4 linked regions of the Homo sapiens genome follow. The protein of the gene in region 2 interacts with the protein of the main gene of each other region in a pairwise test. Each region holds a gene or a part of one and is shown on either strand. Other genes may lie near its edges.

What was found. The genes of interacting proteins can lie anywhere in the genome.
Region 1: the proteins of PRKAR2B (region 2) and AKAP14 interact in binary tests that used the Homo sapiens proteins (3 or more experiments, as listed by UniProt).
Region 3: the proteins of PRKAR2B (region 2) and AKAP10 interact in a two-hybrid assay, tested with the Homo sapiens proteins (one large-scale study listed by BioGRID).
Region 4: the proteins of PRKAR2B (region 2) and CEP63 interact in a two-hybrid assay, tested with the Homo sapiens proteins (one large-scale study listed by IntAct).

What each region holds. Positions count from the first base shown.
Region 1 is NC_000023.11:119,901,223-119,906,422, forward strand, and holds part of AKAP14 (A-kinase anchor protein 14), read left to right. Parts: intron 1-1,991; 5' UTR 1,992-2,001; coding exon 2,002-2,170; intron 2,171-2,272; coding exon 2,273-2,364; coding exon of another isoform or gene 2,365-2,373; exon of another isoform or gene 2,374-2,437; intron 2,438-5,200. UniProt on the Homo sapiens protein: Binds to type II regulatory subunits of protein kinase A and anchors/targets them.
Region 2 is NC_000007.14:107,155,601-107,160,800, forward strand, and holds part of PRKAR2B (cAMP-dependent protein kinase type II-beta regulatory subunit), read left to right. Parts: intron 1-1,383; coding exon 1,384-1,449; intron 1,450-1,585; coding exon 1,586-1,724; intron 1,725-3,848; coding exon 3,849-3,982; 3' UTR 3,983-5,200. UniProt on the Homo sapiens protein: Regulatory subunit of the cAMP-dependent protein kinases involved in cAMP signaling in cells. Type II regulatory chains mediate membrane association by binding to anchoring proteins, including the MAP2 kinase.
Region 3 is NC_000017.11:19,956,799-19,961,998, reverse strand, and holds part of AKAP10 (A-kinase anchor protein 10, mitochondrial isoform 1 precursor), read left to right. Parts: intron 1-3,427; coding exon 3,428-3,985; intron 3,986-5,200. UniProt on the Homo sapiens protein: Differentially targeted protein that binds to type I and II regulatory subunits of protein kinase A and anchors them to the mitochondria or the plasma membrane.
Region 4 is NC_000003.12:134,533,387-134,538,586, forward strand, and holds part of CEP63 (centrosomal protein of 63 kDa), read left to right. Parts: intron 1-3,768; coding exon 3,769-3,882; intron 3,883-5,200. UniProt on the Homo sapiens protein: Required for normal spindle assembly.

The DNA of each region.
Region 1 (5,200 bases), on a different chromosome or scaffold from region 2:
TCATTTTACATTTTTCTGGAAGTATTAACCAAAGCTAATACTCATAAGAGATATATACTCCTGGAAAAAAGATGATAAAAGTGACAGTTTATTGGAGATGATATAATTGTATACTGTACTGGAAAAACCCAAGAGAGAGAATTATGAAACCAATATTCCTCTGCTGTAATGCCTCTACTCATTTTAACACTATCTTTATAGGCCAGGTGTGGTGGCTCACACCTGTAATCCCAGCACTTTGGGAGTCCAAAGTGGGTGGATCACTTGAGGTCAGGAGTTCAAGACCAGCCTGGCCAACATGGTGAACCCCCGTCTCTACTAAAACTACAAAAAATTAGCCAGGCATGGTGGCACACGCCTGTAGTCCCAGCTACTCGGGAGGCTGAGACAGGAGAATCACTTGAATCCGGGAGGCGGAGGTTGCAGTGAGCCAAGATTGTGCCATTGCACTCCAGCCTGGGCGACAGAACGAAACTTTGTCTCAAAAAAAAAAAAAACACTATCTTAGCCGGCGCGCTGGCTCACGCCTGTAATCCCAGCACTTTGGGAGGCCGAGGCGGGTGGATCACCTGAGGTCAAGAGTTCGAGACCAGCCTGGCCAACTTGGAGAAACCCCATCTCTACTGAAAATACAAAATTAGCCGGGCGTGGTGGCGCATGCCTCCAATCCCAGCTACTCGGGAGGCTGAAGCAGGAGAATCACTTGAACCTGGATTCTCCCGGGAGGCGGAGGTTGCGGTGAGCCGAGATAGCGCCATTGCTCTCCAGCCTGGGCAACAAGAACAAAACTCTGACTCAAACAAACAAACAAACAAACAAAAAACAAAACACTGTCTTTATACTTTTTTTTTTTTTTTGAGATGTAGTCTCCCTCTGTAGCCCAGGCTGGAAGGCTGGAGTGCAGTGGTGCGATCTCGGCTCACAGCAACCTCTGCCTCCTGGGTCCCGGTTCAAGCAATTCTCCTGCCTCAGCCTCCTGTGTAGCTGGGATTACAGGCATGAGCCACCATGCCCAGCTAATTTTTGTATTTTTAGTAGAGACGAGGTTTCACCATGTTGGCCAGAGTGGTCTTCAACTCCTGACCTCGTGATATGCCTGCCTCAGGCTCCCAAAGTGCTGGGATTACAGGCGTGAGCCACCGCGCCGGGCCTTTATATTTCTTTTTAAAAGTTAAGACAGGTTGGGGAGTGGGGAGATCTCACTATGTTGCCCAGGCTGGTTTCAAACTCATAGCCTCAAACTGTCCCCCTGCTTCAGCCTCCTGAATAGCTGAGATTACAGGCACATGCCACCACACCCACTTCATTTTAACATCATTTTAAAAGAGCCAGGTGCCCTCAGTTGCTCCTAGCAGGGATTGGGTTTCTTATCAAAGATTCAACTTGGAATCAATATTGCTAGGCACTCCAAAGAAGTGCTACTTTTTTTCTACTACATTTTGATTTAAGTCATTATGGTGTTTTTTTTGTTTTTTGTTTTGTTTTTGAGATGGAGTTTTGCTCTTGTTGCCCAGGCTGGAGTGCAATGGCGCGATCTTGGCTCACTGCAACCTCCACCTCCCAGGTTCAAGCAATTGTCCTGCCTCAGCCTCCCAAGTAGCTGGGATTACAGGCGCCCGCCACCACACCCGGCAAATTTTGCATTTTTAGTAGAGACGGGGTTTCACCATGTTGGTCAGGCTGGTCTTGAACTCCTGACCTCAGGTGATCCGCCCGCCTCGGGCTCTCAAAGGGCTGGGATTACAGGCGTGAGCCACCGCGCCGGGCCTCATTATGATTTTGAGAATGTGAGAATCCTTGGTTTTCAGGAAAAGTAGATAGCAGCAGCCAGGCACAGGTCTGACTCCTACCCTTAAACCCCTAATCCCCTCCCTAGAGGCAATAACTGCTTCCTGTCTCTTGTGATTCTTCAAGAGATGATCTGTACTTATATGAGTGCGTTCACATGTGTGTACACACACAGGCACACAGTAACTTCTTTTTTTCCCCAGGAAAAAGAAAATGAGTGAGACTCAAAATTCAACAAGCCAGAAAGCAATGGATGAGGATAACAAAGCCGCAAGCCAAACAATGCCGAATACACAAGACAAGAACTACGAGGATGAATTGACTCAAGTAGCTCTAGCTCTGGTTGAGGATGTCATCAATTATGCTGTTAAGATTGTGGAAGGTAGTGATCCTGTTTGTTTGGATGCCTAAATAATTGTCTATATAGTCTAAATATAGCACCACACTACCTGGCAACTAACGAACTCACACCTTTTTTTTGCAGAGGAGCGAAACCCTTTGAAAAACATCAAGTGGATGACTCACGGTGAATTCACTGTGGAAAAGGGTCTTAAACAAATTGACGAATATTTTTCGGTAAGTTAGGCCGACCACTCCAGCATGGTACACCGGTGTGAAGAACAATAAAGAGACTCTCAGCAGATCAAAAGTTTGAAGTCTGGAAAATCTAGGAGATGGTATCAAAGGGGGCTGACTAGAATAAGTAAACATCATCTCCATCTCAGTTCCAAAATCAAGGTGGGATAGTCTTTGAAGGTGAAATGCACAATCACAATCATTTTCCCTGTGTCTGTATCATTCTAACCTTACATTTCCCTGGGAAAATCTGCTCTTCCTACTTAAGCAATTTGTCCATGCTGGTGCATTAAATGGGGGCCTAGTGGCCTAAGGAGGGAGATGCTCCTCCAAAATAGGAGTTCTCCACCACCATTATTTTGTTTATTTTTTTTAGAGACAGGGTCCCACTCTGTCACCGAGGCTGCAGTGCAGGGGCTCGATCCTAGCTCCCTGCAGCTTTGAACTCCTGGGCTCAAGCGATCTTCCCACCTCAGCCTTCCAAGTAGACAGGCACGTGTCACCACACCTGGCTAATTTTTAATTTTTTTTTGTAGAGACAGGGTCGTGCTATGTTGCTCAGGTTGGCCTCGAACTCCTGGCCTCAAGGGATCCTCCTGCCTTGGCCTCCCAAAGTGCTGGGATTACAGGTGTGAGCCATTGCACCCAGCCTCCACCACCAACTTTAGAATGCTCCTGTTAACAGAGGGGATGCAGATGGATCAAAAGACTTTTTGATTTGGCTTTGGAATATATTGCCTGCATAGTAAGATGTACAATCCCATGAATTCCTTTGTTCTTCTGCCTGTGTCTGACTCTGACTTCTTCGTGTGGCAGCTTTGCTGAGAAGGCCCTGGATTACTTTGCATAACTGGTGAGTGAATAAAGGAGAATGGCTTGGGCCAGGCGCAGTGGTTCACATCTGTAATCCCAGCACTTTGAAATACCAAGACGGGAGAATCAATCATTTGAGCCTAAGAGTTTGAGACAGCCTGGGCAACATAGTGGGACCCCATCTCTATAAAACTAAAAAATTAGGCCAGGCATAGTGGCTCACGCCTGTAAGCCCAGCACTTTGGGAGGCCGAAGTGGGCAGATCACAAGGTCAGGAGTTCAAGTCCAGCCTGGCCAATATGGTGAAACCCCGTCTCTATTAAAAATACAAAAATTAGCCAGGCGTGGTGCTGGGCGCCTGTAATCCCAGCTACTCGGGAGGCTGAGGCAGAAGAATCGCTTGAACCCAGGAGGCAGAGGTTGCAGTGAGCTGAGATTACACCACTGCATTCTCAATCCTGGGCGACAGAGCAAGACTCCGTCTCAAAAAATAATAATAATAATTAGCCGGGCGTGGTGGTATGCACGTATAGTTCCAGCTACTCAGGAGGCTGAGGTGGGAGGATCACTTGAGCCCAGGAGGTCGAGGCTGCAGTAAGCTGTGATTGTGCCACTGCACTCAGCCTGGGTGACAGAGTGAGACCCTGTCTCAAAAAAAAAAAAGGCTTGAAATCCTTCTCATTGTGCTTCTGTGGAACAGAGACCAGTTGAAATTGGTGGAGGCGAACTCCCCTACCCCTGGGAAAAGTTCCAGCTCTCTCTGTTCCCCAGGCCAGCACCTCAAAGCCTACAGCCCTCAGGGCAGTTTCCCAGGCCTTAGGAAGGCCTGGTCAGGTGTGAAGGAGGAAAAGTCAGGGATTTCTGGCTCCACGCCTTCTATGCTCCAGCGGACGCCACTCACCGTTCTCATTAGGAGGGGTATCTTGAGCATAGTGAAGATGAATGGTGCAAGTTATTCTTGAGCCTTCCTGCTGTGGAGCACTTCTCCATTTGGGGTTGGGCAAAGGCCCCTGCCTACTGCACTCAGGGTTCCTGAATCAAACTAGAATGGAACACATAGCAAGTAGGAAAAATTTCCCTTGCAAATCCCACTGGTCATTCTGAGTAAAAGGCAAAAGTAAGTCCTGACAATGGTCTACAAGGCCCAATATGATCTGAGTTCCCTTTCCCCTCCTGATTTATGGTTCAGCTCCCATCACTCCTTCCCCCCTCTCACCTTCTTCCCTCGGCCACACTTGCCTCCTTGCCGTTCCTCGACTGCCAGGCATGTTCCCCTGTCAGGACCCTTGCTCTTGCTGTTCCCTCTGCCTGGAACCCTCTCCCCTAAGATGTATACCCATGGCTCACTGCTTTACCTCCCTTCAGATCTTTGTTGAAAACTATCACCTGCTCATTGAGGCTTTTCTTGGCCACTTCATCTAAAATCACAACCCTCTCCACTTCTCTGATTCATTTTTCCCTTCGCACTTCTTTCTGCCTACTAGAGTCTATTTACTTGTCCTACTGCCTGTCTTCCACCCCCAGACCATATGGTCCATGAGGGCAGATTTCTCTTGACTGCTCTCTTCCCAGCCCCTAGCAATGTCAGGTACACAGATGCTCAATAACTCTATGTTGAATACATGAGCAGATTTATTATTGCATTACCGTATTTCTTCACAGATGAAGAGCCAGGTCAAAGGATTTGTCTTACCTATTTCGTAGGGCTGTTGTGAGGACAGAGACAATTAAAAAGTAAATGACTGAAAAGCTAAACATGTTATATTAACTCATGATGTAAAATCGCCCTGTTCCCAGCCCCACTAATGCAGCATGCCTGGCATTTCTTTTTTTTTTTTTTTTTTTTTTTTTTTGAGACGGAGTCTCACTCTGTCGCCCAGGCTGGAGTGCAGTGGCGTGATCTTGGCTCACTGCACCCTCCGCCTCCTAGGTTCAAGTGATTCTCCTATCTCAGCCTCCCGAGTAGCTGGGACTACAGGCGTGTGCCACCGTGCTGGCTAATATTTTGTATTTTTAGTAGAGA
Region 2 (5,200 bases):
TTGCATTTCTCTAATGATCAGTAATGATCTTTTTTTCATTTTTTTTTTGGCTGCATAAATATCTTCTTTTGATTCTTTTGAGAAGTGTCCGTTCATATCCTTTGCCCACTTTTTAATGGCAGAAATACCATTTGACCCAGAAAACCCATTACTGGGTATATACCCAAAGGAATATAAATCATTCTGCTATAAAGACACATGCACACATATGTTTATTGCAGCACTATTTACAATAACAAAGACATGGAACCAACCCAAATGCCCATCAGTGATAGACTGGATAAAGAAAACGTGGTACATATATACCATGGAGTACTATGCAGCCATAAAAAAGAATGAGATAATGTCCTTTGCAGGACATGGATGAAGCTGGAAGCCATCATTCTCAGCAGACTAACACAGGAGTAGAAAACTAAACACCGAATGTTCTCACTCATAAGTGGGAGTTGAACAATAAGAACACATGGACACAGGGAGGGGAACATCACACACCGGGGCCTGTCAGGGGGTGGGGAGTGAAGGTAGGGAGAGTATTAGGACAGATACCTAATGCATGCGGGGCTTAAAACCAGACAGGTTGATAGGTATAGCAAACCTCCATGGCACATGTATACCTGTGTAACAAACCTGCATGTTCTCCACATGTATCCCTGATTTAAAGTAAAATTTTAAAAAAAGGAAAAAAAAATTAGCTGGGTGTGGTAGCACATGCCTGTAATCCCAGCTACTTGGGAGGGTGAGGTGGGAGAGTCGCCTGAATCCAGGAGGTGGAGGCTGCAGTGAGCTGAGATTGCACCACTGCACTCCAGCCTGGGTGACAGAGCGAGACTCCATCTTGGGGGGGAAAAAGAAAGTATTATTTCAAATAATTTTACAAATGAAATCATTACTACATAATTGTCCATCAAAACCTCTTCATTTAGGGCCGGGCTCGGTGGCTCACGCCTGTAATCCCAGCACTTTGGGAGGCCGACGCAGGCAGATCTCGAGGTCAGGAGATCAAGACCATCCTGGCTAACACGTTGAAACCCCGTCTCTACTAAAAATACAAATAAATTAGCCGGGCGTGGTGGCAGACGCCTGTAGTCCCAGCCACCCAGGAGGCTGAGGCAGGAGAATGGTGTGAACCCGGGAGGTGGAGCTTGTAGTGAGCCGAGATCGCGCCACTGCATTCCAGTCTGGGCAACAGAGTGAGACTCCGTCTCAAAAAAAAAAAAAACCTCTTGATTTAGAAACCGAGACAGCTTGTTCCCTTAGGATTTCACTTTTCAGGTGAATATGTGTACTTTGGGGTTGGATCAATTTTAGGGATATGAAAGGTAACAAGATTGTTGTCAATTAATTTGCATTTTCACCGTCTGTTTTTGTTATTGATTCCAATAGGGAGATTCGGCTGATTCTTTTTTCATTGTAGAATCTGGAGAAGTGAAAATTACTATGAAAAGAAAGGTAAGCATTCTAAGTCCTCAGAACCCACATACTGTTAGCAAGGAACACAACAGATCTACTTTTTGATGTTTAGACTGAGGTTAATTTTATTTTTCATAAGCTGAGGAAAAGCTCATCTTTTTAATTGCCTTGTCAGGGTAAATCAGAAGTGGAAGAGAATGGTGCAGTAGAAATCGCTCGATGCTCGCGGGGACAGTACTTTGGAGAGCTTGCCCTGGTAACTAACAAACCTCGAGCAGCTTCTGCCCACGCCATTGGGACTGTCAAATGTTTAGGTAGGGATTGCAACAGTGGGCGTGCTTCTGCTGGTTGAACTTATGTCTGCATTTTATGTATTCATGTTGAGTGAATCATTTTATTGGGTTCACAGGTTTTGTGGTCCCCACAAAAGGTAACAAGATTAGGACTCATTGCCTTATAAAATCAATTTGTGGAAGCCATTTTTTCTTCGAAATTTTTACATCCAGATACATTTTGCTCTTCTTGTGTATATATGAAATAACATCCCATATTAGTCATTAAAATAAGAGTTCCAAGTACCACGTTTTATATGGAATCTCTCAAATAAGCAACATGTGCTATGTTCCTCAAAAGAGAAGGCTAAAGTACTATTTTTATAAAGTCCGTTATTAAGATCTGCGGGGAATGCTGAGATGTTGTGAGAATCCTTACTCATTACAGTATTGGGACACAAAGGTTCAGGTTTGTCAAAGCACAGTCAAATGTTCTTTGCTGTTCAGTTGTTATTACTATTTTACCAGAGTAGCTTGGCAGAAATGTCATCTTCAGGTGCAGGCATCTGTATATATCTGAGATTATATATCTGAGAAATCACTTACTTTGATAAGAAAATACAGTTTAGAAGGTGGCAATATGGAGGGTATTTTAAGAAAATTGATCTCACAGTTATTACCCTCTCTGTGCTTTTCATCCATAATTCAATAGCATAAACTTAATGTTTTTAAGATTTGCAAGGATCCTTAGAATTAACTTCTTAGAGAAGTCATTCTTTAAAAGGGTTTAAATAAGTATAATATTAATCAAGTGTTAAATTTGGATGGAAGAGAAGACGATTAGAAACTGGCAGGTAATTTCCCTAAGTAGGGCTATTAGAAAGAGTAAAGGTGAGTGAGTGAAAGTCTATTAGAAATAGTAAAGGTGAGTGAGTGAAAGTCTATTACAGTAAAGGTGAGTGAGTGAAAGTCTATTAGAAAGAGTAAAGGTGAGTGAGTGAAAGTCTGTTAATTTTTTTTCAATAATAGATTATTATACTCACATCAAAGAAAACCTGAGAAATACAGAAAATGTAGAAAAAACATAACACCGCCACTCAGTGATTTCTGCTATTATAATTCCTTCTTGTCCTTTTTATTTGTGTGGGCTTCCAGTTGTTAAACAGTTTTCCAAACAACTTTTAAAGTTCATTATCGCTTAGGAATGTTCTTATTTTATTACACCAAATTTTAAAATTCTTTTAGGTAAATATATACACGATAAATTAATCATTCCTTAGTGGTAAATACTTCGAAGGTTTTGGCTCCAACTTTTTTGTGGGGAGCAATTTTTTGTGCATAGAAGACTTTTCTGTATTATAGGAGTTTTCCTTAGAAATGGTTTTCAGGAGTGGGTTTTTAAAAAATTAACTTTTGACACATATTGCCAGATTACTTGTATTTGTACACTACTAGCAGTGCCATAATGCCCATTCACCCTATTCTTGTAAACATTGCCTTTTTTATCTTTTTATCTTTAGTGTAAAAGGCAAAGAAGATCTATTTTAATTTGTACTTTTATGTATAGAGTATGATCATATTTTCTATTTATATATTATAAATCCAGTTTTAAAATCCAGGAGACAGGCAAGCAAAGTGATTTCTAGCATGTACTTATAGAAGTAAACAAAAGCATTATGTCAGCTGCCATTTTTGGATTGCATAGACATAGTATGGCAGCAAAACTTACAAAAGGTTAACACTTGGCCTTCACAACATGGCATTTTAAACCCTGAGAAGGGAACACAGGATAGAAAACACTCTTGTGCCACCCTTGAGGAGTTCACATTGCTAAGGTGGAGACAGCACATTTATTTTTTAAAATTCTAAGGTCTTTCCATGATAGTCCCTCATTCTTTTCTCAGCTTGGACCAGGAACCTCCCACCAACTTAGCATTGCTCATCATATTGCCGAGGGACTGCAGAGTGTGGTCCAAGAGCGTGGCCCTGGCTGCTTCCTTTTTCAAGTGGAACATTTTTATCATTATGCTTTTTCTTGTATTTTATAGTATTTACCTAAAATATCATTGCACTATTGATATATATGGAGTCGGTATTGTAAATGACTTAGAAATTCTGCAGATTTGCAAAGAATGTTATTTAAAAAAAAATCTTCTCTTTTCTCAGCAATGGATGTGCAAGCATTTGAAAGGCTTCTGGGACCTTGCATGGAAATTATGAAAAGGAACATCGCTACCTATGAAGAACAGTTAGTTGCCCTGTTTGGAACGAACATGGATATTGTTGAACCCACTGCATGAAGCAAAAGTATGGAGCAAGACCTGTAGTGACAAAATTACACAGTAGTGGTTAGTCCACTGAGAATGTGTTTGTGTAGATGCCAAGCATTTTCTGTGATTTCAGGTTTTTTCCTTTTTTTACATTTACAACGTATCAATAAACAGTAGTGATTTAATAGTCAATAGGCTTTAACATCACTTTCTAAAGAGTAGTTCATAAAAAAATCAACATACTGATAAAATGACTTTGTACTCCACAAAATTATGACTGAAAGGTTTATTAAAATGATTGTAATATATAGAAAGTATCTGTGTTTAAGAAGATAATTAAAGGATGTTATCATAGGCTATATGTGTTTTACTTATTCAGACTGATAATCATATTAGTGACTATCCCCATGTAAGAGGGCACTTGGCAATTAAACATGCTACACAGCATGGCATCACTTTTTTTTATAACTCATTAAACACAGTAAAATTTTAATCATTTTTGTTTTAAAGTTTTCTAGCTTGATAAGTTATGTGCTGGCCTTGGCCTATTGGTGAAATGGTATAAAATATCATATGCAGTTTTAAAACTTTTTATATTTTTGCAATAAAGTACATTTTGACTTTGTTGGCATAATGTCAGTAACATACATATTCCAGTGGTTTTATGGACAGGCAATTTAGTCATTATGATAATAAGGAAAACAGTGTTTTAGATGAGAGATCATTAATGCATTTTTCCCTCATCAAGCATATATCTGCTTTTTTTTATTTTGCAATTCTCTGTATTCTATGTCTTTAAAAATTTGATCTTGACATTTAATGTCACAAAGTTTTGTTTTTTTAAAAAGTGATTTAAACTTAAGATCCGACATTTTTTGTATTCTTTAAGATTTTACACCTAAAAAATCTCTCCTATCCCAAAAATAATGTGGGATCCTTATCAGCATGCCCACAGTTTATTTCTTTGTTCTTCACTAGGCCTGCATAATACAGTCCTATGTAGACATCTGTTCCCTTGGGTTTCCGTTCTTTCTTAGGATGGTTGCCAACCCACAATCTCATTGATCAGCAGCCAATATGGGTTTGTTTGGTTTTTTTAATTCTTAAAAACATCCTCTAGAGGAATAGAAACAAATTTTTATGAGCATAACCCTATATAAAGACAAAATGAATTTCTGACCTTACCATATATACCATTAGGCCTTGCCATTGCTTTAATGTAGACTCATAGTTGAAATTAGTGCAGAA
Region 3 (5,200 bases), on a different chromosome or scaffold from region 2:
GACTGCAGGCATGTGTCACCACACCCAGATAATTTTTTAATTTTTTGTAGAGACAGGGTCTCACTATGTTGCCTAAGCTGGTCTCAAACTCCTGGCCTCAAGCAATTCTCCCACACAGGCCTCCCAAAGTGCTGGGATTACCAACGTGAACCACCACACCTGGTTCAGTGTAGCCATTTAGAAATCTAAAAAAGACGTGGGAAAATGTCTAAGGCATGTTTAAATGTGAGAAAAGCAAGTCACAGTATGCATGGTAAAATCCGTTATATTAAAATAAGTTCTTCCAAAACAAAAACATATGCAGGAGACCTTTATTTTGTCAGTATTTCTTACCCAAATTTCTGCACTTAGAAAATTGCATGTCATGTTGTCATAAGTTGAAAAAAAGATCCATGAACCAATGGACTTCTAATAAAATCAGTCCTGCTTTTGACATCTCTCTCTACTTTTGTGTATATTCAAACCAGAGTGTCAATGTGTTTGTGGGGCACACTTAGCAATAATACATAGCAGACAAAATGCATATAGCTCAGAGAGTAAAATTGTAAGTTTTGCTAGATCACTCATAAATTGCTGATGAGAATTTAAAATGGTGCAGATGCTCTGGAAAACAGGCAGTTTCTTTCTTTCTTTTTTTTTTTCTTTTTGAGACAGGGTCTCACTCTGTTGCGCAGGCTGGAGTACAGTGGCGTGATTACAACTCACTGCAGCCTCACCCTCCTCAGGTTCAGGTGATCCTCCCTCAGTCTCCTGAGTAGCTGGGACTATAGGCATGCACCACCACGCCTGGCTAATTTTTGTATTTTTTTTTTTTTTTTTTGTAGAGACGGGGTTTCGCCATGTTTCCCAGGCTGGTCTCAAACTCCTGGAATCAAGCGATCCACTTGCGTAGGCCTCCCAAAGTGCTGGGATTACGGGCGTGAGCTACTGTGCCTGGCCTAGGCAGTTTGTTTGTTTGTTTGTTTGTTTGTTTATTTATTTGTAGACGGAGTCTCACAGGCTGGAGTGCAGTGGCCCAATTTTTGGCTCACTGCAACCTCCGCCTCCCAGGTTCAAGCTATTCTCCTGCCTCAGCCTCCTGAGTAGCTGGGATGACAGGTGCCTGCCATAATGCCTGGCTGATTTTTGTATATTTAGTAGATATGGGGTTTCACCATGTTGGTCAGGCTGGTTTTGAACTCCTGACCTCAGGTGATCAGCCCGCCTCGGCCTCCCAAAGTGCTGGGATTACAGGCATGAGCCGTCATCCCTGGCTGGTGGTTTCTTATGACGTGAAACATGCAATTACCATATGACCTAGCAGTTGCACTCTGTATTTATCCCAGATAAATGAAAACTTACCTTCCAATAAAAACCTGTGCACAAATGTTCATAGCAGCTTAATATTGAAAAACTGGATGTTCTTCAGCAGGTGAATGAACTGGTTCATTCATACCATGGAATACCATTCAGCAATAAAAAGGAACAAACTGTTGATACATTTAACCACCTGGATGAATATCAAGGGAATTATGCTGTCAGACAAAAACCAGTCCCTAAAGACTACATATAGTATGATTCCGTTTGGATAATATTCTTGAAATAGAGAAATTAAGAGAAATGAAAAGATTAGTGTTTGCCAGATGTTAGAGACAGGGAGGTGAGAGGGGTAAGTGGGTGTAGTTATAAAAGTGCAACATGAGGGATCTTTGTGATGTTGAAGTTGTATCTTGGCAGTGGATGCAGAAATCTCAATGTGATAAAATTACAAAGAACTAAAAACAAGAATGAGTATAGATAAAACTGGGGAAATCTGAACAAGTTAGAGTGTTGTATCACTGTCAGTATCTTAGAGTGATATTGTACTATAGCTTTGCAAGATGTTACCATGGGAGAAACTAAAGTGTACAAGGGATCTCTAGGTATTATTATTTTTTTAGAGATGGGGTTTCACTATGTTCCCCAGGCCGGTCTTGAACTCCTGGGCTCTAGTGATCCGCCTGCCCCAGCCTCCTAAAGTACTGGAATTACAGGCGTGAGCGACCATGCCTGGCCCTTTCAGTATTGTATCTTAGAACTTCATGTGAATCTAGCATTATCTCATAGAATTTAATTAAAAGAAATTGTAAACCTCACAGAAGATCAGAATTTCCTCAAGTTTGTGATGTTGACAAAGATGAACTAGTTGACACTGACAGTAAGACTGAGGATGAAGACACGACGTGCTTCAAAAAAATGATTTGAATATCAATGGATTAAGAAGAACTCTTTTGACAAATTGATGAAACCCTCAGTCAGTTTTATAAGAATGCCCATCTTTATGATCATGCTATGAAAGCCAATTTTTAAAAAAATTTTTTGTCTTTCCTAACAATTAGCTTGTGGTTATAATTTAAATTTAGTTAAATATAAGATAAATGATTTTTTATTAAGTTTAGTTTCATTTTTCAAGGTACGATCTCAAAGCTACTCTTTAACCTACTATGAATGAATAATGCTGAGTTCATAACATCTTTGTAGATATATCCACAATTTTCCCTCAGGATAAGTGCCTACAAGTGGAATTACTGGACTGAAAATAATGCAGTTTGCTAAGACTTTGCTATCTGTTCCTGAATGCTCCTCCAAAAAGGTTTTGCCAGTTTACATCCTCATGACCAGCGAATGAGAGTGTTGCCTATTTTCCTGTGCCCTTGTTACTGCTTAATAATTTTTGAAAAAAATCTAATTTGACAGACAAAAATGCATTTTATGTTAATTTGCTTTTCTGGGATTTTTAATGAGGTTGAGTATAGTTTTTAATATTTTTATTGGCCCCTTTGGAACTAGTATCATAAGTTTTTTTTCTTAAGAATTTATGTAGTCTGGGCTGGGCGCAGTGGCTCACGCCTGCAATCCCAGCACTTTGGGAGGCCGAGGTGGGTGGATTGCCGAAGGTCAGGAGTTTGAGACCATCCTGACCAACATGGTGAAACCGAATCTCTACTAAAAGTACAAAAACTAGCTCAGCGTGGTGGCGGGTGCCTGTAATCCCAGCTACTTAGGAGGCTGAGTCAAGAGAATCGCTTGAACCCGGGAGGTGGAGGTTGGTTGCATTGAGCCGAGATCGCGCCATTGCTCTCCAGCCTAGGCAACAAGAGTGAAAAGTCTCAAAAAAAAAAAAAAAAAAAAAAAAAAGAATTTACATGGTCTGAATTGCCATTAAAAGAGATATGAGAATTATTGAGTAACAAATAACTTTTTAATAATTTAGGCAAGTTTTGGACGATTGTACTTTGTTTAGAAACCAAAAGCATAGTATTTGTAGTTTTTTTATTTACTTTAGTTGCTAGGAAGTAAACTTTATTCAAGGTCTCTGGTACCAGTTGTTGCTAAAAGTGATTGACTAATCTGTCAATCTGAAATTATTTGTTGCTGAACTGCTAATTCTTTTGCTTCTATCTTTTAGGCAGATCTTGTCTGGACTACCAGACTCAAGAGACCAAATCAAGCCTTTCTAAGACCCTTGAACAAGTCTTGCACGACACTATTGTCCTCCCTTACTTCATTCAATTCATGGAACTTCGGCGAATGGAGCATTTGGTGAAATTTTGGTTAGAGGCTGAAAGTTTTCATTCAACAACTTGGTCGCGAATAAGAGCACACAGTCTAAACACAGTGAAGCAGAGCTCACTGGCTGAGCCTGTCTCTCCATCTAAAAAGCATGAAACTACAGCGTCTTTTTTAACTGATTCTCTTGATAAGAGATTGGAGGATTCTGGCTCAGCACAGTTGTTTATGACTCATTCAGAAGGAATTGACCTGAATAATAGAACTAACAGCACTCAGAATCACTTGCTGCTTTCCCAGGAATGTGACAGTGCCCATTCTCTCCGTCTTGAAATGGCCAGAGCAGGAACTCACCAAGTTTCCATGGAAACCCAAGAATCTTCCTCTACACTTACAGTAGCCAGTAGAAATAGTCCCGCTTCTCCACTAAAAGAATTGTCAGGAAAACTAATGAAAAGTGAGTATGTGATTTTCTTGTGTGTACATATGTGTCTCACTTTCTTTTTTTAATTTACTAAGCAGAACTTCAGATGAGGAATAAAATGATTGGAATATTTTTTTTCTCCTCTAACTACTTGTAAATTTGGGAGAATTTGGAGAGTGTAGTAGAGTCAGATCAGTGTATGGAAAAGGAGCAGGAGTGACTGGACCTTCTAAGAAGTGTGTTATCAGAATTAGTAAATGAAGGGTCAAATGTCCTACTTTTCCCCTCCACTGATTTTGACATCAAACCATTATCCACATAGCCTTATTTCCTCCCTCGGTCTTAATTTTATTAATATTTTACTGCACTTTGCAGATAAAATTTTTAAAAAATTTTTAAAAATTGCCAATAAGTGACATTTATTAAGTTCAGTGCTTAGTGTATATTTGGATTTTATTTATTAGTCACAAGACCTTTGTGCAGGTAGTAGGCATGATTATCTTTTTTTTTTTGAGATGGAGTCTTGCTCTGTCGCCCAGGCTGGAGTGCAATGGCGCGGTCTCGGCTCACTGCAACCTCCGGGTTCATGCCATTCTCCTGCCTCAGCCTCCCAAATAGCTGGGACTACAGGCGCCTGCCACCACACCCGGCTAATTTTTTTGTATTTTTAGTAGAGACGGGGTTTCACCATGTTCGCCAGGATGGTCTCGATCTCCTGACTTTGTGATCCGCCTGCCTCGGCCTCCCAAAGTGCTGGGATTACAGGCATGAGCCACCGCGCCCGGACTGATTATCTTATTTACACATGAGAAAACCAGGGCTTAGAAAGGTTAGGTAACTTCCTCTAGGTTGTACAGTAAATGTGGACCTAGAAGCATTTTGACAAGAGCACCTGTTTTTTTTTCTTCTCTATTAGTTTAGAAATTATATACTCTTAATTATCACCTGGGATTTTGATTAGACAGCCTTCATGTTCTTTTTCATCTTAAATGTTCTTTGTGTCTTAAAGGGCTAAGTGATTTCTTCAGATCTTTTAGTTCACTCATTCTCAGTGAACTAAAATGAGGTCTAATCTGCTACTGAATCAAGTTTTCAGCATGTTATTTCCTTCCTCCCTCCCTCCCTCCTTCCTTCCCTCAACCAGGCTCCCGAGGAGCTGGGATTACAGGCGCCCGCCACCACTCCTGGCTAATTTTTATATTTTAGTAGAGACGGGGTTTCACCATGTTGGTCAGGCTGATCTTGAAC
Region 4 (5,200 bases), on a different chromosome or scaffold from region 2:
CTTAGTAAATGTGGAAAGTACATGGCACTTTTCGTACAAAGTAATCTCTGTATCAGATTATTCTCAATTCCCATTTAGATGTAGTAAGGCATTCACTTCCTTCTCTGCTGACTTTGTTTTTATTAAGACTGAATAACTCCATGATTATTGTATATATTGAGAACTTAAGGGGAGCTGGTGAGCTAATAGTACCAAGAGTAGATGAAGGAAGAGCACAAGGCTGTCATTCTCTTCGTCTGTCCTTGCCATTAGTTCTTCACTGGACATAAGAATTCCCAGGGTGCTTTTAGGCTCTCAGAAATGCTGATCCAGCAGTATGGCATAGGACCTAGGGATCTGCATTGTATCCAGCTCCCCTAGCTTATTCTGATTTGAGAAACATTGTTCAACATCTTTGTGTGATCACTTACAAGTTTGTACTCTGGGTGACCTGTCACCCACAAATGCCAGTATATTATTATTACTTAAAATTATAATTTCTGTGTTTAATATTCCTTTATATCTCAATATTTTTTTACATTTGAAGAGCTTAGAATCAGAAGACTGCAGCTACTGCTTCCCTTCCACCCTTTTCGGCAATACCTTTTCCCCCCAAACCCTATATCCTTCTTGCTTCTCATTGCCACTTCCTGACTATTCTCTTTTCTTTCTACCTCAAAAACCCCATCTTTGATTTTCATGTTACCAGCCTATACTGCCAGCCAATGAACATAACAACCAAAATAGTCATCGTCTGACCTCTGGGTTATTTCCTTGGCTCATTGATTTCAGCACCCAGCTCACTGTCAATTCTCTCTGACATTACTCTTATCATAACTTTGAGGATCTTAGGATCTGGAGAGATGATGCTTATAATACTCTGACCTTACAGTTTCTTGGCTTTCTTTCCTCCATAGATAGTTTGATTATCTTTGTGTCTCATCTACTTATTCCCACTGCCATTCCTTAGCTCTTGTCATTACCAATATATGCCACCCCTCTAGAATCTCATTTTCAAGCATTCAATTATCAGACTACCAATCCCTATCTTTTCAGCTAACTCTCTCTAGTCCTTTGACTCTCAGTAATCATTAACCATCCCTTAAAATGATTAAATTCTGCCACCTTTTTACTGCTCCATTATCTACTTGGTGTTCTCACTTATCGGTCCTTAGCCAGCTTTTAAATTCTGTCATTACATTTTTTACTTTCCCCTTCATCTCCTGTGCTCCTCTCTTGCTTCCTCATATTTGCTTGGCAGAATCACAGTTCTGCTTAAGTCCACCTTTCTGCCCACTCTCTACCTGTCATGTATCGCTGAACGTGGCTAGAGAAAAACCTAATCATACTGTCTGTTCTCACTTTAAATTCATGGTCACTAACCTCAAATGGGTCCTAATGCTACCTGGAATCATACTGTATTTCCTCTCATCTCCTACTTTCCACAATGAGTATTTCAGACTTCTGCTTTTCTCCTCAAACTCTCAACACCTTTCCCCACATCCTCACCTTTGGGTTATATCTTCCTTTCTGTTTATAGACTTCCAACTCTTGTGTCCACCCACCTATCTGCATCTGTGCCCATGTACCCTGCCTTCCTTCCTGGAGGAACTACGCATGCCCTCCCCCTTTTCTACCCAAGGCATTACCTTAGCAGTTCACCTTCTCTTTTCTGCACCCTTAATTTTTTTTCTCTACTGGATATTTTTTACCAGCATCCAAATTTCCCTCCTCTTAAATATCCTCTCTTGACCCGTCTCTTCCTCCTCTGCCCCATTTTATTTCTTCCATTTTATAACTAAAAAATTACTTCAGTCATCTATACTTGTCTCCAGTTCCTCTTGTCTCATTGTTCTTGTACCCACTCAATAAGGCTTTTGTCCCCTCACACTGCAGAAGCTGTTCACATAGAGGTCACCAGTGACTTCCACATTCCCAAAGCCTGTGGGCTGGTCCTTATCTTCCTCATCCTACCTACAGCTTTGTAGGAGAGCTGGTCTCTCCCAACTCCTTAACCACTTTCTTGACTTGGCTTGAGAAAAACCACATTTCTCTCATTTTTTCCTTGTTCATCACTCCTCAGTCTCCATTATTCCTTAACCACCTAGGGTCATGTCATTGGACCTTTCCTTTCCTTTTTTTTTTTCCTATCTACGCTCACTCCCCTATTGATCCCATTGAATTTCATAGCTTTAACACTGTGTATATGCTGACAATTCCTAAATTTATATATCTAGCCAAGACCTCGCCTCTTCATGACAGAATAACTTTCAACTGCCTGTTTCCTATCTCCACTATGATGTCTAAAATGTGTCAAACTTAACATGTCCAAGCTAAAGGTCCTGTCTTTCTCTTCCTCATCTCCCCAACACTGATTCATGTTTTAGTTGATAACAACTCAATTTGCTCAACCTAAAACCTCGGAGTCATCCTAGACTTCTCTTTTCTCAGCATGATAGCCAGAATGATTCTGCTGTAATGTAAGTCAAATTATATCACTTCCTATACAAAAACCTTCCAGCAGCTTCTCTTAAAAATCTGTTATCCTAATGGCCTACGTGGTCTCATTCCCAGTTATCTCTCTTACCTTGTCTTCTCCTACTTTCCCTTTCATTCACTTTATTCCAGCCACACCAATTTCCTTTCTCACCCTTAAACACACCAGGATGCTCTTATTTCAAGGCTATTCTTTCCACCCAGAATATTGTAACTTCACCCTCATCTCCCTAGGTGTTTACTTAAATGTTTTTCACTCAGTCTGGCCATCCCTTTTAAAAATTACAACCCCAACTGTGAAGACTTCATGCTCTGTTTTCTCCAAAACGTGTATTACCATCTGCTATACCATACAAGAAATGTGTCATCTGTTGCCCCCAGTTGAGTAGGACTAGGGTTTTTGTTTGTTTTGTTAAGTATTGTATCCCTGACTCCTAAAGCAGTACCTGGCATATATAGTAGAATGATTGAATGAATGAATGAATATCAGAAATTTGGTTAACAACACTTATCTTAAGGAGCCTGAGACTTCTGGAGTTGAGGGTCCTGGAAGACAGTGATAGAAAGATTGAGTTTCCTTTCCCTTTGATTTGCCCCATTTTCATAAATATTGAAATCACTTTCTTGATCATGCAATTTGATGTTACTATTGATCCATCATTAATTTTGAACTGTTTGGCTTTGGGTTACAAATATTTGTTAAAATTTGGTACAGATTTTCTTTGTTATTCAAACTTTTGCAGTTCCTCTGTTGAGATAATACAAATTTGGATATCAAAGGATATTGTGTTATCTGAATCTACTTGGTTCCTTAGTTTTAGATACTGGGAAGTAAGATTTGGGTTACCAAGGGACTTATCTGAAAATTTAATCTGTTCAATTCCTGGGTCTGGATATCAAGAATTTGGATAGCGAGGGATATCTGTAATCATACTTTAAAATTTTAGTTATCTTAGCATCAGTTTTCTGAAAATTCACTAGAAAATTATAACAACCCTTAGGTGGCAGCAAATCAGTGAAAAACATCTGAATCCAGTGCTTAACATCTGCGTGTCATACTCCTCACCATCAGGGTGTTAAATTTAGAAAGACAGATATCCAGAGGCACAGTATGTGAGGAAGTTAGTATTACTCTCCAGCTCTGTTAGCTGAGTGAGTAATGGGGCTCCCGCTGTGGAGAAAGGTGCAAGCGTACCCAGGGACATGGGGAGAAATTAAAGTTAAAGGGAGTCTGGGAAGTAGTGACAGTGAGGAGAAGCACTCAGAAATTAAGTACTCTAATTGCCTCCTCAGGAATTCCGTCAGAAATCGCTGGACTGGGAGAAGCAACGCTTGATTTATCAGCAACAGGTATCTTCACTGGAGGCACAAAGGAAGGCTCTGGCTGAACAATCAGAGATAATTCAGGTAGGCCTAAGACTTTTTAAAATAATGAGAAGCAGATAGGTTTTGATCAAGTTTGAACTACCTTAATGCAGTGTCCTAGTACCATTTAGCCTCTTTCAGCTTCTCTCCACGAACCCTGCTCTCTTGTTTAGGAAGCCTCTCCTCAGCATCTAGACTCAGCTCCTTCTTCCCGCCTGCCCTCACACATGCGTGCATTCACTCTCCTGTCCAGGCTCATGTCCTTGTGCCCGCTTGCTGCTTTGCCTCCTTGCTTGTTTCTGACTTGCTCACCCACTCTCTGTCATTGTCTTGCTTACTCAGGCTCACTCTATGCTTGCATCCATGTTCACTCTCCTCATCTTGGTCCCTAGCTTTGTCGCCCTCTCTTCCTCCCCTCTCTTTCTTCCCTACCACAGTCCCATTCCTCCCTCTGTCTCCTTTTCCATGTCTTTCTGTCTCTTGTTGGGTCTCTCAGCTCTACTATAGTCTGTGCCTTGCTCCATCCCTATGGTCACTGGGGTATCTTGGCCGAAGTGTCTCAGCTAGGGAGCTTCAGTTAGTCTGCCTATGCGGACAGATACGGAGAGAGTCACATGGCAATGGTGTGCACACCAACTAAAAGTGGTGTCTTTGTGGTAACAAAAACACTTATTTTAGAACATTGATAGAAACTTTTCTTGTAATGGCTTAAGCAAAACCAAAAAACAGACACCTACTTTAGGAATATGTCTTGTAAGAACATATTCAGCTCATTCCTTTTTCAGTTAGAATCAAGAACATAAAGGAAACTAAAAAAATTTGTGATCATCTGTTATGTGCTAGACATTGACCCAGTGCTTCTTGTATGTGTTCTCTGTTTAATATTATGATAATCTGTCAAGGTTGGTAGTTATCTTAGTTTTATAGAATGAGGGAACAGCCTGGGTAAGTTGAAATAGCTAGAAGGGAGGGTTTTTTTTTTTTTTTTTTTTGGCTTTTTGGGTTTTTAAAAATAATCTGCATTTATTTGCTATTTTAAGTCTCAATAATGCATTAACTTTTTGTTCGTCTCCCTGAAATATCAGCAGTCTGATAAACTACCGACAGTGGCTGTGGCTCTGCTGTGAGTGACTTCATTCAAAATGGTAGGAAAAGTCCACAACAATTGCAAGGAAGAAATTTATTTTCTAGGCCACAGCAAGCTGTGCAGCCAGACAGACCAGTGAAATCCTGAGATGTCTGGACCAGTTTTTTTGACTTGAATGCCAAAGCACCATAGAGACCTAATAAGAAATTGTGTGTGTGTGTATATATATATATATATATATGTATATATATATTTTTTTAACAACAAAAAATT